2 linked regions of the Homo sapiens genome follow. The protein of the gene in region 2 interacts with the protein of the main gene of each other region in a pairwise test. Each region holds a gene or a part of one and is shown on either strand. Other genes may lie near its edges.

Evidence for each region. Proteins that work in one complex are often made in the same cells at the same time.
Region 1: the proteins of ARX (region 2) and PHF8 interact in binary tests that used the Homo sapiens proteins (3 or more experiments, as listed by UniProt).

What each region holds. Positions count from the first base shown.
Region 1 is NC_000023.11:54,041,474-54,049,078, forward strand, and holds the start of PHF8 (histone lysine demethylase PHF8), read right to left. Parts: upstream 3,001-7,605; 5' UTR 2,289-3,000; exon of another isoform or gene 1,638-2,288; intron 1,348-1,637; coding exon of another isoform or gene 1,256-1,347; coding exon 1,158-1,255; intron 1-1,157. UniProt on the Homo sapiens protein: Histone lysine demethylase with selectivity for the di- and monomethyl states that plays a key role cell cycle progression, rDNA transcription and brain development.
Region 2 is NC_000023.11:25,001,777-25,006,324, reverse strand, and holds the end of ARX (homeobox protein ARX), read left to right. Parts: intron 1-1,414; coding exon 1,415-1,655; 3' UTR 1,656-2,631; downstream 2,632-4,548. UniProt on the Homo sapiens protein: Transcription factor. Binds to specific sequence motif 5'-TAATTA-3' in regulatory elements of target genes, such as histone demethylase KDM5C. Positively modulates transcription of KDM5C.

The DNA of each region.
Region 1 (7,605 bases), about 29 Mb from region 2:
AACAAGCAACAGGAGGAGGGTGCCATACACTGTTTTGTTGTGCTCCAGTGTACAAAGCCCCCTCAAGGTTGTCTTTCCATAGCTGAGATTTAAATCCCATTAATGAAATATTAGTTTTATCGTACACACTAACCTCTCCGGAATTCTGGGTGACAGGTGCTTATGTGCACACACGGTTAACTGAAGGAAATTCATCAGTGGTTTTACTCCTGTTTTACCCAGCATCTATTCTGCTTAATTCAATTTAGTTGGATGGTGCTGCAGATAAATGCTGTAGAAATAAAATACTCTTCCATTTCTGCCTCCATTTATGGAGTACATCCAAACTGCTTTGCAAAGTCAGAAAGGATGTATTTGATAACATTTTATAGCTGAAGACAATGAGGCTCAGAAAAGCAAAGCAACTTGTGCATGGTCACTCTGAAACTAAGTACAAAGCCACAACTTAAATCCCTGTTTATGGACTCAACTACCTCAAATAAGCAACACTGTTTTCCCAAAAGCCAGTGTGTGAGGCAGAACATAATTGTCAGACTATAAAAATGATGACCGGGCACGGTGGCTCACGCCTGTAATCCCAGCACTTTGGGAGGCCGAGGCAGGCAGATCTCCAGAGGTCGGGAGTTCCAGACCAGCCTGATCAACATGGAAAAACACCGTCTCTACTAAAAATACAAAATCAGCTGGGTGTGGTGGTGCATGCCTGTAATCTCAGCTACTTGGAGGCTGGGGCAGGAAAATCGCTTGAACCTGGGAGGCAGAGGTTGCTGTGAGCCGAGATCGCGCCATTGCACTCCAGCCTGGGCAACGAGCGAAACTCCGTCTCGAAAAAAATAAAACAAAATAAAAAATAAAATAGAGAAGAATATAAAAATGATTCTTTGTAACAGGAAAGAAAAGGGGGGGGGGGTCTTATAAATCTAAAAAAACACTCAAAAGAAAAGTGCAAAGAAGAAATACATAGGGGAAAACACAGGAAAAGGAGAAACCAGAGGCTAATGTCAGCTAGGTCCTGTTCTGCAAGGAGAGATGGCAGAACCTGAGTCTGGGAGAGGGGGTCCTGAGCCGGAATCTAAAAACAGAGCTGAGAAAGGAAGAGAGAGCAAGTGAACACACCTGGCCACCGCACCCTGTGTAGCCTGGCCTGCCCTCCTTACCTGCCATGAAACCAGTCCTGGCACATGTCACACTCGATCATGAAGCGGGTCACATCGTAAGGCAGCCGGCAGAGGCAATACACCGGCACCGAGGCCATCTTCGCTCGGCCCTGGAGCGTTCTGCGGCCGGCCAGGTTCGTCGTGTCAAGAGGGGCGGGAGGCGGCAGCACGCGTCCTCTCTGGACGATAGCTAGGCACAAATAACACTTTTTACAGAGTGAATCAGCCCCCGCCCCCCACCCCCTTGCACCAACCCTCAGTTCTCCAATAGAGTTACCGCCGCCGGGATGCAACACAGCTGGTGCGGCTGTAGGGGGCAACCAGAGAAAGTCCACCCGGCCCTTAGAATTTCTTTCACACGTAAAGAACGGAGCTCAACCTTCCAGGCTTCCCACCGCCCCCACACTCTCCACTCCCCACCCCCCACCTTCTTCGGCCCCGTTGTCAGTGATAACTTCTTTCCGGGTTTCAAGAAAATACCTGAAGCCTTTTCGGGAAGCTTCTTTCATCTCTCACTGAACCCTCCCCTAGCTGACCCCTGTTTCACAGGGCTCCCTCTATTATGACGCAAACCACAGCGTCAAAAATGAGGCTGGGGGTATCTCAAGACAAGACCCTCCTCTCACCACCTGAAATAGGGCCAACCAGAGAGAGATAAGGGATCCCTGAAAGTCTCTTCAGGTTACTCAAAGCCTTCACGAACAAGACAGACAAGACTAGGCGCCCAACTCAAATCACAGTTCTGGGGTCGTGTTCGGAGAGTTTAAATAATCCTTTCCATCACTCTCAATATCATTCCTTCCCCGACCAGTCAGGAGTCTCATCACCCCCAAAACTGAAATAAATATAAATCTCTAAACTGACCAGCTCGTTCTGTACTTTAAAGATGACAGGGTTCTGGCTGCATCCCTGAAACTCAAAAGGATCTATTCAAAACCCCTCAAACTGACTAGAATTTCCTCACACTCCCGAAACTAAGCAAGGATTCTTTTGCATCGCTCGGAAACTGGCAGCGTTTCCTTGCAGCCCCCCCTCAAACTGATGAGAGCTCCCTAGTCTCCCCAAATGTTCAGGTACCTCACAGTATATCCTAAAACTGACAGTAATAGCCTCGCAGCCCCCAAAACTTACAGGAATCTTAACGCTTCCCCAACTGACAGGAACCTCCTCACGCCCCAAACCTGACAAGAACGTCTTCAGTCCAGAATCCTACAGGGACCTCCTCATGCTTTGGGCTGCAAGGACTCCACGCCCGCGGAGCTCAGCCCCAGCGACACGCCGGCAGCCGGGCTAGCTCCGGGACTGCGAAGCGCCTCAGCGGAGGCTCGTCCGGTAGTTCCGGCCCCTACGGCGACGCGCGTCGAATTCTGGGATAGTCCCCGTACCGCCGGGAACCTCGCTCGCCTTCCCCTCGAGCCCCCCGCTGGGTCGCGCGGCGCCAGCCGCTCAACGGTGCTTCAGAGCAGCCTCCTCCACAACATTCCCCTCGGCCCGGCCGTTCGGGCCTACTGGAGACCGCGGCTTGGGCCTAGTCTGGCGGCCGCCCGGCGAACGGGCAAGTGGCGTCGTCGCTGGGCCGGCAGGAGATACTCGCGAGCAAACCAACGGGGAAAGAGATGAACCGGCCGCCACGTCCGAGGCACACGGCCCGAAAAGTCGCTGGGAGAAGCCCAGTGGCGGTGGTAGGCAATTCGGAGTAGTCAATAAAGTTTATTCAAAACAATGAGGAAGTTGAGGCGGAGAGGGGAGGAGAAATACGGGATAAACAGCTACCATGTTGAGAGTGGCGGCGCTACCCAGACAACCAAGGCGACCGCCATCTTATGAGGGCTGGACTCGCGAGGTGAGCGCGGCGGAGGCGGGGAACCGCGAGCCGCCGGCTCCCGGGTGACGTCATCGGGGGGGCGGGGCGCCACCTTGAGAAAGGAGGGCGGTTCTCAGCCACCTTTGGACCCGCTCGTCTCTTTAAGGTGCCCAATCGCCGCTGAAGACCTTGAGCCCAGAGGCGGAGAAGCCGCCATCTTAGGCGAGGCAGACGTTTGGCTCCATTTTGAGTGGGGCCCGAAACTTCCTAGCCTTCCCCCTCCTCCGGGCAAACAGGGAGTTCAGCTACCCCGACTCGCACACTCCTCCTCCCCAGCCTTCTCCTCCTATGAGAGGAGGTGAACTCGGTGACTCCAAACTACAAAATTAATAGGTGGCGGCGGGGGCGGGCTTCAGCCGGGGTAGAGGCGGAGTACTCACCGCGGCTCCTGTTCATTGAGCACCTTCGATAGGCTGGGCTCTTTCCCACGGTCTCTGCGTTGTTGGTTCTTCCCCCTGTGAAGGAAGCTCTGTGATTATCACCAAATGAAGGCAGGGGCTTCGAGAAGCCAAGTGACTTGAGTCCCGGAGCAGGGACGTTGAACCTTGTGCCCTGTGCTACCCGCGTTCTGTCCCCAGGCCCTCAGTGTAGTTCCTCTGTAAAGCTGCTGCCAACTCCACAACTCCCTCTGAACTCTTCTTTGACCCTACTGTTTCACTTCAGTTCAAATACAGTTCAAGGATTTGTTTGCACCTGTCCCACAATTTTCTGACTATAGCCTGAGGGGAGGGGAGAGGAGGGGGGATGAGAGGAAAGGCTGAGTTAGTGGAGCTTTGCTGAGTTAGTGGAGCTTCGTACATATGCTTCAAGATGGCCTAGGTTTTCTCAAACATTCTAGAAAATTCTCTAGGAGTTATCTTACTATTTCATTTTCTTAAAGGGTCCCATTGCTTTAAAAAGGAAATGTGTGCGTGCACACAATTTACTAACCAGTGATGGTGGGGTAGGCCCTGGGGATGCAATGGTGAAAACAGGGCCTCTGGAGTGGGAGGGCATCTGCCAGTGCAGGAAACAAAGTTGCGAGTAAACAATTGGAATAGAAGGCACAGTAAGCACACAAATACCACCTGCAAAATGACCTTTGCAAAATGCAACATGAAGCTACAAAAGAGCCTTACAAGCTGCTTGCAGCTGCTGTAAGAAAGACGGCAGGGGGACATGGACGATTAAGTTCACTTAAATAAACAAGCGAGAACATTGTACTCAAAAGGATCAACGTGTACAAATGCATGGAGGCACATAGAAAAATATTTACTAGAAGTTGAATATTGTTGGAACAAGGAAAACAGAAGAGAGATAGGTAGGAGGTCAAACAGTAAAGGGTCACAACATGAAAGATTGCGAAATGCAAAAGAGTTTAGATTGTATGCAGTTAGCAAAAAGAAAACACAGGTTTTTGAGCAGGGGTAGCTTAGTCTCATATTTGTGACTTACCCAGAGGATGGTTTAGGGTTTTTTTTTTTTTTTATGTTTGTTGTTTTAGAGACAAGGTCTCACTCTGTCAACTCAGGCTGGGCGGTCATAGCTCACTGCACCCTAGAACTCCTGGACTCAAGCGGTCCTTCCGCCAGAGCCTCATGAGTAACTGAGACTATAGGCGCACACCACCACACTCGGTTATTTTTTATTTTTTATAGAGCCCAGGCCTCGCTATATTGCTCAGGCTGGTCTCAAACTCCTGGTTTCAGATCCTCTAAAAGCGCTGGGATTACAGGCCTGAGCCACTGCACTGAAAGGTCCAGGTTTAATGGGACCTGAAGCTTATATGGTTTGGGGGAGGAAGGGTGAGACGTCTTTAAGAAAAAAATAGCCGGGCGCGGTGGCTCATGTCTGTAATCCTAGCACTTTGGGAGGCCGAGGCGGGCGGATCACAAGTTCAGGAGTTCGAGACCAGCCTGGCCAACATGGTGAAACGCCATATCTACTAAAAATAAAAATATTAGCCGTGTGTGGTGGCACATGCCTGCAGTCCCACGTACACAGGAGGCTGAGGCAGGAGAATCGCTTGAACACGGGAGGCGGAGGTTGCAGTGATCCGAGACTGTGTCATTGCAGTCCAGCCTGGGTGACAGAGCGAGACTCCATCTCAAAAAAAAAAAAAATGACTTATGAATACAAAATTAGGTTCAAAGGTAGGCAGTAAGAGTATTTCTACAAGCAATTCCTTCACCTGGGTAATAATTACGAAGAGAAGTGATACAAGGCACATGTAAATGTACCATGGGGCCGGGTGCAGATTGCATGTCTGTAATCCCAGCACTTTGGGAGGTCAGGATGGGAGGATCACTTGAGCCCAGGAGTTCAAGACCAGGCTGGGCAACATAGTGAAACCCTGTCTCTACAAAATAAAAATAAAATGAATTTTTAAATAACAAATATCCCATGAAACCCAACCTAAATATATCCCCCAAATCAACTTCCCCTTAGGTGGATCTCAAAAATGTCAGGCAGCTCCAACACCACCTAATGCAAGGGAAAGTATGGCCAGGCCCTCAGTGGAAAGGGACAGCACTTTGAACCAATTGTTGTTTAAATGTATTTTGTGAACTTTATAAAACACATCACCATGTGACCCTATGGAAAGTGACAGGTCCTGCAGTTTAAGATGTCTTAGCTTCACAAGGAGTCAGGAGGAATGAGGCTGTTTCACTAGTGTTGGGGGGAAAAAATTGGTCCAGGATAGTTTGGGAAAGGGTAGAAAAAGATGAGATAATTTGGATATTTTGGAGGTTGACTAGGCAGTGTTTGGAAACTGATAATAGCAGATGAGTGAGTGAAAGGGGTGTGAGTTCACTTCTGGGTTGAGTGTCAGCATAGATGACGGTGCCACTGAATGAACTGGGCTACGCAGAAGAGAAAACAGATTTGGTGGGGAGGAGACTAAATTTAATTTGGACTATGTTGAGTTCAGGTGTGTGTGGAACATTAATTCCCTCACCCAACAGTTCTTTATTAATCTACTATGCATCATGCACTGTGCTAGGTGCTGAGGATGTTGAGGTACCCCAGATAAGGCCCTGGCCTGCATGCAGCTGACAGTCTACTGGCGGAAACAGTCAATGATCAAATAAAATTTCATTAATATGTGAATTTCATTCACATATTTTCTTGAACACCTACTGTTAGGCACTGGGGATTTAGGGGTAAACAAAACAGACAAGTCCCCGCCCTCCTGTGACTCATTTCCAGCAAGGGAGACGGATAAAAAGTGAGGCAAATCAGAGAATTTCCAATTGAGGTGAGTGCTATCAGGAAAGTAAGACCAGTTATGAGATAGAGAATGATTTGAAAGGAAAGCAGTCTATTTTAGATAAGGTAGTCAAGGAAGGGTTCTCAGAGAAGGTGACAGGAGCTGAGACCTGAATAACAAAAAGAGCTAGCTAGGGACAAAGGCAAAAGGAATCAAAAGTGTTGGCCGGGTGTGGTGGCTCACGCCTGTAATCTCAGCACTTTGGGAGGCCGAGGCGGGTGGATCACGAGGTCAAGAGATCCAGACCATCCTGGCCAACATGGTGAAACCCCATCTCTACTAAAAATACAAAAAATTAGCTGGGTGTGGTGGCACGTGCCTGTAGTCCCAGCTACTCAGGAGGCTGAGGCAGGAGAATCGCGTGAACCCGGGAGGCAGAGCTTGCGGTGAGCCGAGATTGTGCCACTGCACTCCAGCCTGGGCGACAGAGCAAGACTCCATCTCAAAAAAAAAAAAAAAAGTGCTAAAGCCCTAAGATGGGGGCAAGAGGACTGGGTGGGCTACAGGTGGGGGTCAGGGTCTCCAAGCCTGAATTAGAGACCCTGTGTGTACCCTTAGGGAATAGACGATCTAATAAATTAACAAAACAAGGAGGCTGGAAAAGGTCAAACCCTAAGTGCTACATAGAGGTTTGAGCAACCTGTGTGGTGTGGGAACAAAGAGGCAGTCACAGTTAATTCAAACACATTCAGTGGGTGTGTGAGGAAAGGCTTCACAAGAGGTAGCATTGGACCTAGGTACAGTGGTTCCTACCCCGACTCCTAAAATTCCTCCCCAGTGTCCTTGAGAGGTGGGGAGTGGACAAAGGATATTAGGAAAGGCAAAGCTGCCAGGGGTCTGAACCAGAGGCAGTCAGATTTGCTGACAAAGCAAGTCTTGCCACTGCTAAGGATGGGAGGCAGCTGGCTGCTGCCCTGGAAATGTGTGGACTGGTCCAGTCTCAGAGGATGCAGCCCATGATGGGACCTGGCTGCCACAGCACCAGGCTGCCCTGGAAGCCTACCTCCCCCATCCCACCTCCATTTAACAGTTGTAAACATTTATTTTTAATAACACAGATTCAGTTCCATCCCATTGTAATGTAAATGCATTCCCATTATAAACATTCAAACAGCCAGGCTGAACTTTCCCCGTGACAGGGCATTTCAATGCCTGCTTACCTCTCTAGAGGGAACCTCAGCAGGATCTTTTCCAATTCATTTCTCTACATATATGTTATAGCTATTGAGGTAAAAAAAAAAAATGATGAGGGCTACAGTGAACTATAAAACACATGAGTGGAAAAGGGGGGATTGGGGGGAAACTTACATGAGGAAAAACAGGTGTCCTCTGAA
Region 2 (4,548 bases):
ATCATCTTACAGAAAATTAAGACTCGGAGTAAATTTAGTTTCTTATAACAAACCAATAAAATAAACAGCGAGCGCACTGAAGCAGAGTTAGTGACTCAGTTTACCTAATGGAACCAGGGCATGTTACGCCACCTCCGGGTCACACTTTATCATTTCTTTCTGAGAAAAATCTTAAAGTTCTGTCTCTCCCCTCCCTCCACTTTTTCCCTCTGACAAGTGACTTGTAAACCCAGGCGAACCGTGGCTGGAGGACCGAGTTGCGAGATTCGGAGAGGCTGGAAGAGGGTCTGGGCTGGGGTGGTGCGAGGAGTGAGCAGTGGGCTTGGGAGAAGGAGGCGGCGCTCGGTGAGCCCAGGTGGGCTCATTTCTAACCCTGGAAATCCGGAATTGGCCCCGCGGGCCTGGAGCCAGACCCCTCAGGGAGGCGGTCGGGAAAGCTCGCGGGCGCTCCAAGGCGGTGGGCGTGGGGGTGGTGTCCGGTGGCCCCGGGCGGCTCCGGCCACAGCTAATGTCCCGGTGCTGTGTGCATGGGGTGGAAGCGTCACGTGGAGTAATTCGGTCGCCGCTTGGAGGCGGTGGCGCTGGCGTGGGTCCCAGGCTTGGGCATCGCCTTGCGCCGCGCGCCAGGGTCGTGGGTCGGGGGCTCCCTGAGGCCAGAGGCTACAGGGGCGCGGGGAAGACAGCTGGGGTCGCCGCGCCAGGATGTGGGGCTGCTGGCAGGTGACACCCGCCCGTGGAGCCGAAATCAACAGGCGGTCGCCCTTCACTCTCACCCGCAGGCGCTGGCCAGACGCGGGTAGCTGAGTCCCGCGCGGAAGGGCGGCCGCGGCGGCGCGGGTGGCCCGGGAGGCCGGCGAGCTAGGCCTGTTTCTTCAGGGCGCAGAAAGTCCCGGGCCAAGGAGCCGGAGGGAGATCTCAGAGCCTGCGGCGTGCGTCCGGGCAGCTGGAATCCCACCTTCTCCGTCTTTTTTTTCCTCCCCCCTCCCACCCTCCACCTTCCCTTCTTTTGCTCTCCTCTCCTTTTCTCCTTCCGCATTCTCTCCTGGGAGATAGTGTCATTGCAGCCCCTGGCCTTGGAATAAACCGTCCGTTTAAGCGAAACCACCGAATCCACGCCACTGGGCCGTGGGGCTTGAGGTCTCCACGCCGGCCTGTGGACCCCGGCCCGGCCCGGCCCCTCGGGGAATATCTGGACTCGGTCTTTTCCCCCCAGTCGGTTCCCTGCCCCAGGAAAGCCCTCTCTGCGGGGTCCAGCTTCCGCCCGCGCCCTCTGCCCACTTCCCCGCCGCGGCCCATCCGGGTCCCGTGGGTACCGCGCCCCTCAGCTGCCCCGGCGACAAGCGGCGGGAGACGCTGCCCGAGGCGCCGCGCACAGCTCCCGAGGCCATGACCGCGCTGTTTGCTCTCCCTGCAGGCTCTTTTCCACAATGGCCCCCCTGACCAGCGCGTCGACCGCGGCCGCGCTCCTGAGACAGCCCACACCCGCCGTGGAGGGCGCAGTGGCATCGGGCGCCCTGGCCGACCCGGCCACGGCGGCCGCAGACAGACGCGCCTCTAGCATAGCCGCGCTGAGGCTCAAGGCCAAGGAGCACGCGGCGCAGCTCACGCAGCTCAACATCCTGCCGGGCACCAGCACGGGCAAGGAGGTGTGCTAAAGGCTGCCCTCCACACCCGCGCCCCGCGCGCGCCCCGAAAGGTCACCTCACTCAGCACCACTCAAGACCAAATGGAAACAGAGGACCAGCACACTCCCGAGACGGCACTGAGAGAGCGCAGCCGCCTTCACAGCAGTCTGGATGCGGGCATGGCAGCCCTCGGCGCTCCGGGACGTGGCACCTCCTCGGCTGGCTGTCCACCCGCCCCTGCCCCTGCCCCTGCTACTGCCAACCTCGCTCCAACTCCAACATCCACTCTCTCTTGTTCTTACTTTCCTGAAAATATCGGGGAGGTTTTCTCCCCCAGACGCCTGATATTGAAGTAAAAAATTTAAAAAGCCCAACCTCTTCCTCCTGACACCCCACTTAGCCTTTCTTTTCTTTCTTTCTTTCTTTCTTTTTTTTTTTTAAATAGCATTTTGGCGCTCGAAGTTGATCTCCCCAGCGAGGGCCCCAGCGTGAAGCCAGGGCCCGGGAAGCAAATGCGAGCCTGTAAGATAGCTAACAGTGCACTTAAAGGAAAGGGGCGTCTTGTTCTTGTTCTCTTCTTTATCATACACCAACCAAGGTTTTTATATCAAACCAAAGGGAAATAATACTCTGCTAGAATATGGACTGTTGAAGTCACCAAACTGTGATTATTGATTCTGTACATACCATTGTTATTAAAAAAAAAAAAAAAAGAACAGAGCTTTGTATATTTGAAATGTTATAACGCAATTGCACTCAGCGTGGTATGGTAAAAGTTTGTCCTCCCGTAGATTCTTACTGTGTTGTAGATACGGTAGGGTTCCTAGACAAATATTTATGTACTCAAGCCCTTTATTTAACTTATTAACTGTAGAGGCTTCCGAAACCTTCAAGATAAAGGCAATGGTACAGTACTTTTGTGTAATGTGTAATTGTTACCACTTTTCCTTGCTATCTAGTGGAGAAGTGTCACGCTCAAAATAAAAAAATTATATGTTTAACAAAACGAAGTGTGAATGCTCCATACAGGCGCTGAGGGGACAGTAGAAGCCCCCACCCCCACCCCCCGGGAGTCAAGGGTGGGCTCCAGCGTCCAGGCATCTCCTGGGATTATCTGCACACGCGTTTTCCTGGCAGAGGCCCCTGGTTTGAATCCGATCCTCAAAGGGAACCGGATTTCCTACGAAGGTTAAGGACGCCGCCGCGGTACTTTCCACGCGCACCTGGGCTCTCCCGGGTCGTGTCACAGCGGGAGCTGGGGGTCCCGGGCCACGGAGGTGGGGTGGGTTCCAGGATGGGTGGGTGGATGGTGGGCGTTGTTGACGGTGGAGTCAGAAATTTGAAGCAAGCGGGAGTCTTGGCTCGGAAGGCGAAGGGAGCTGTTGGAAAGTGCCACGTAGCCAGGAAGTGAAGTGCGCAGTCCGAGATGACAGGTAATGGCGAGAGCGAGAAGCCCAGGCGCTCCCTTCCGAGGGGGCGGGCTCCACGGCATGTTCGCAGGGAGGAGGGAGTGTGTGTGTGTATTGTGTTGTGTGTGCGTGTGTGTGTGAGAGAGAGAGAGAGGGAGGGAGAGAGAGAGAAACATGCGGGAGCAGTAGTGATGGAAAGGCAGCGAGGGGTATCCAAATGGCAGATCTTAACTCGACAAATGTCATTACATCACTTATCCAGGCATTGGTAAATGTATACATTTAAAAAAATCTAAACAACTCAGATTTCGTGAGGAGACCCAAACAGATTTGCAATCCTTAACCACCTCGGCGCACGCCTCCCTCCTCGCGGCGGGGACCGCAGCTTCTCCCTCCCCCGGGCCCTGCCCGCGCCCCTCCGGGTGACCGCTTGGTGGAAGCCCGCCCGCGGGGGCTGGGTCTCGCCGACGCTCCCAGGGTGATGGGAAAGGGAAGAGAAGCTTAATTAGTTTCAATTTGCTGTAATTAGCGCGCCGGACCTTTGGGGAGAGGGGCAGGCGGGAGGGGTGCGGGGGTGCCGCGGCGTGACTACCGCGATTGCGGAGCTGGGGCCGGCAGCCCCGCCACGCCGCCGCCGCCGCCGGCCAGTCGGTCGCCGCGGGGGGCGCGGGTGCCTCTCTGGGCTGGGGCCGTCGGGCTCCGCGCGCGCCCTGGAGGAGGGGGGCCGGGTCCCCTCGCGGCCCAGGGCGCAAGTGTGCGCGGCCGAGGGGAGGGTGCAGGGTTGGGCAGAGGTCAGCGGCCTGCCAGGCGCTGTGCCCACCTGGGTGTGGGCAGCCCGCCCGGCAGCTTCGGCGCTGGAGCCCGCACGTCCCGGGCTCGCCTCCTATCCTGCACCCCCCTTCACCCCCAACTTCAATCCCCTCCTCTCCAACCCCGGGTCCAGACGCCCGGAGACCCCGCCCGCCCGAAACGTTGGAGAGCTCACGGAACCGGCTCGCCGGCTGGTGGCCGCTTCTGGCACTTGGGTCGTCGGGTGGATCACCGCCACCCAACGCTAGCCCTGGACTCACGGGGGCGGCACTCGCAAGAAGGGCCCCGGCCTGGGGTATGGGGAGCGGCCGCCAACTACCATTCCTACCACACACTCCGTTCCCGGGTTTAGTAGGCCCGGTGGGAACTTTCTAGGGCCTTACTGGAGGTCTGAGAGTCTAAAACCCTCAGACTCCACATCCACAGGCTCTCCCTGAGTGAAAGCCGCTTTCCTGGGGTGGTCAGGGCCGCTGGAGAGTTTGGGGAGGAGACGGGACTGCTGGAGAAGACTGAGGGAAAGGAGTTGGGTGTGTGTGTGTGTGTGTGTGTCTGTGTGTGTGTGTGTGTGTTGTGGTCGATATCAATTTTGCGTCGATTTTGCCTTTTTGTTTAGTAGGGCTTCTTTTCCCCCCTCTAGGCTGCTAGTTGGATGGTATACGAGAAACAGTACCATTCTTCCTGTTAATGAACTCTTTTTTAAGTCA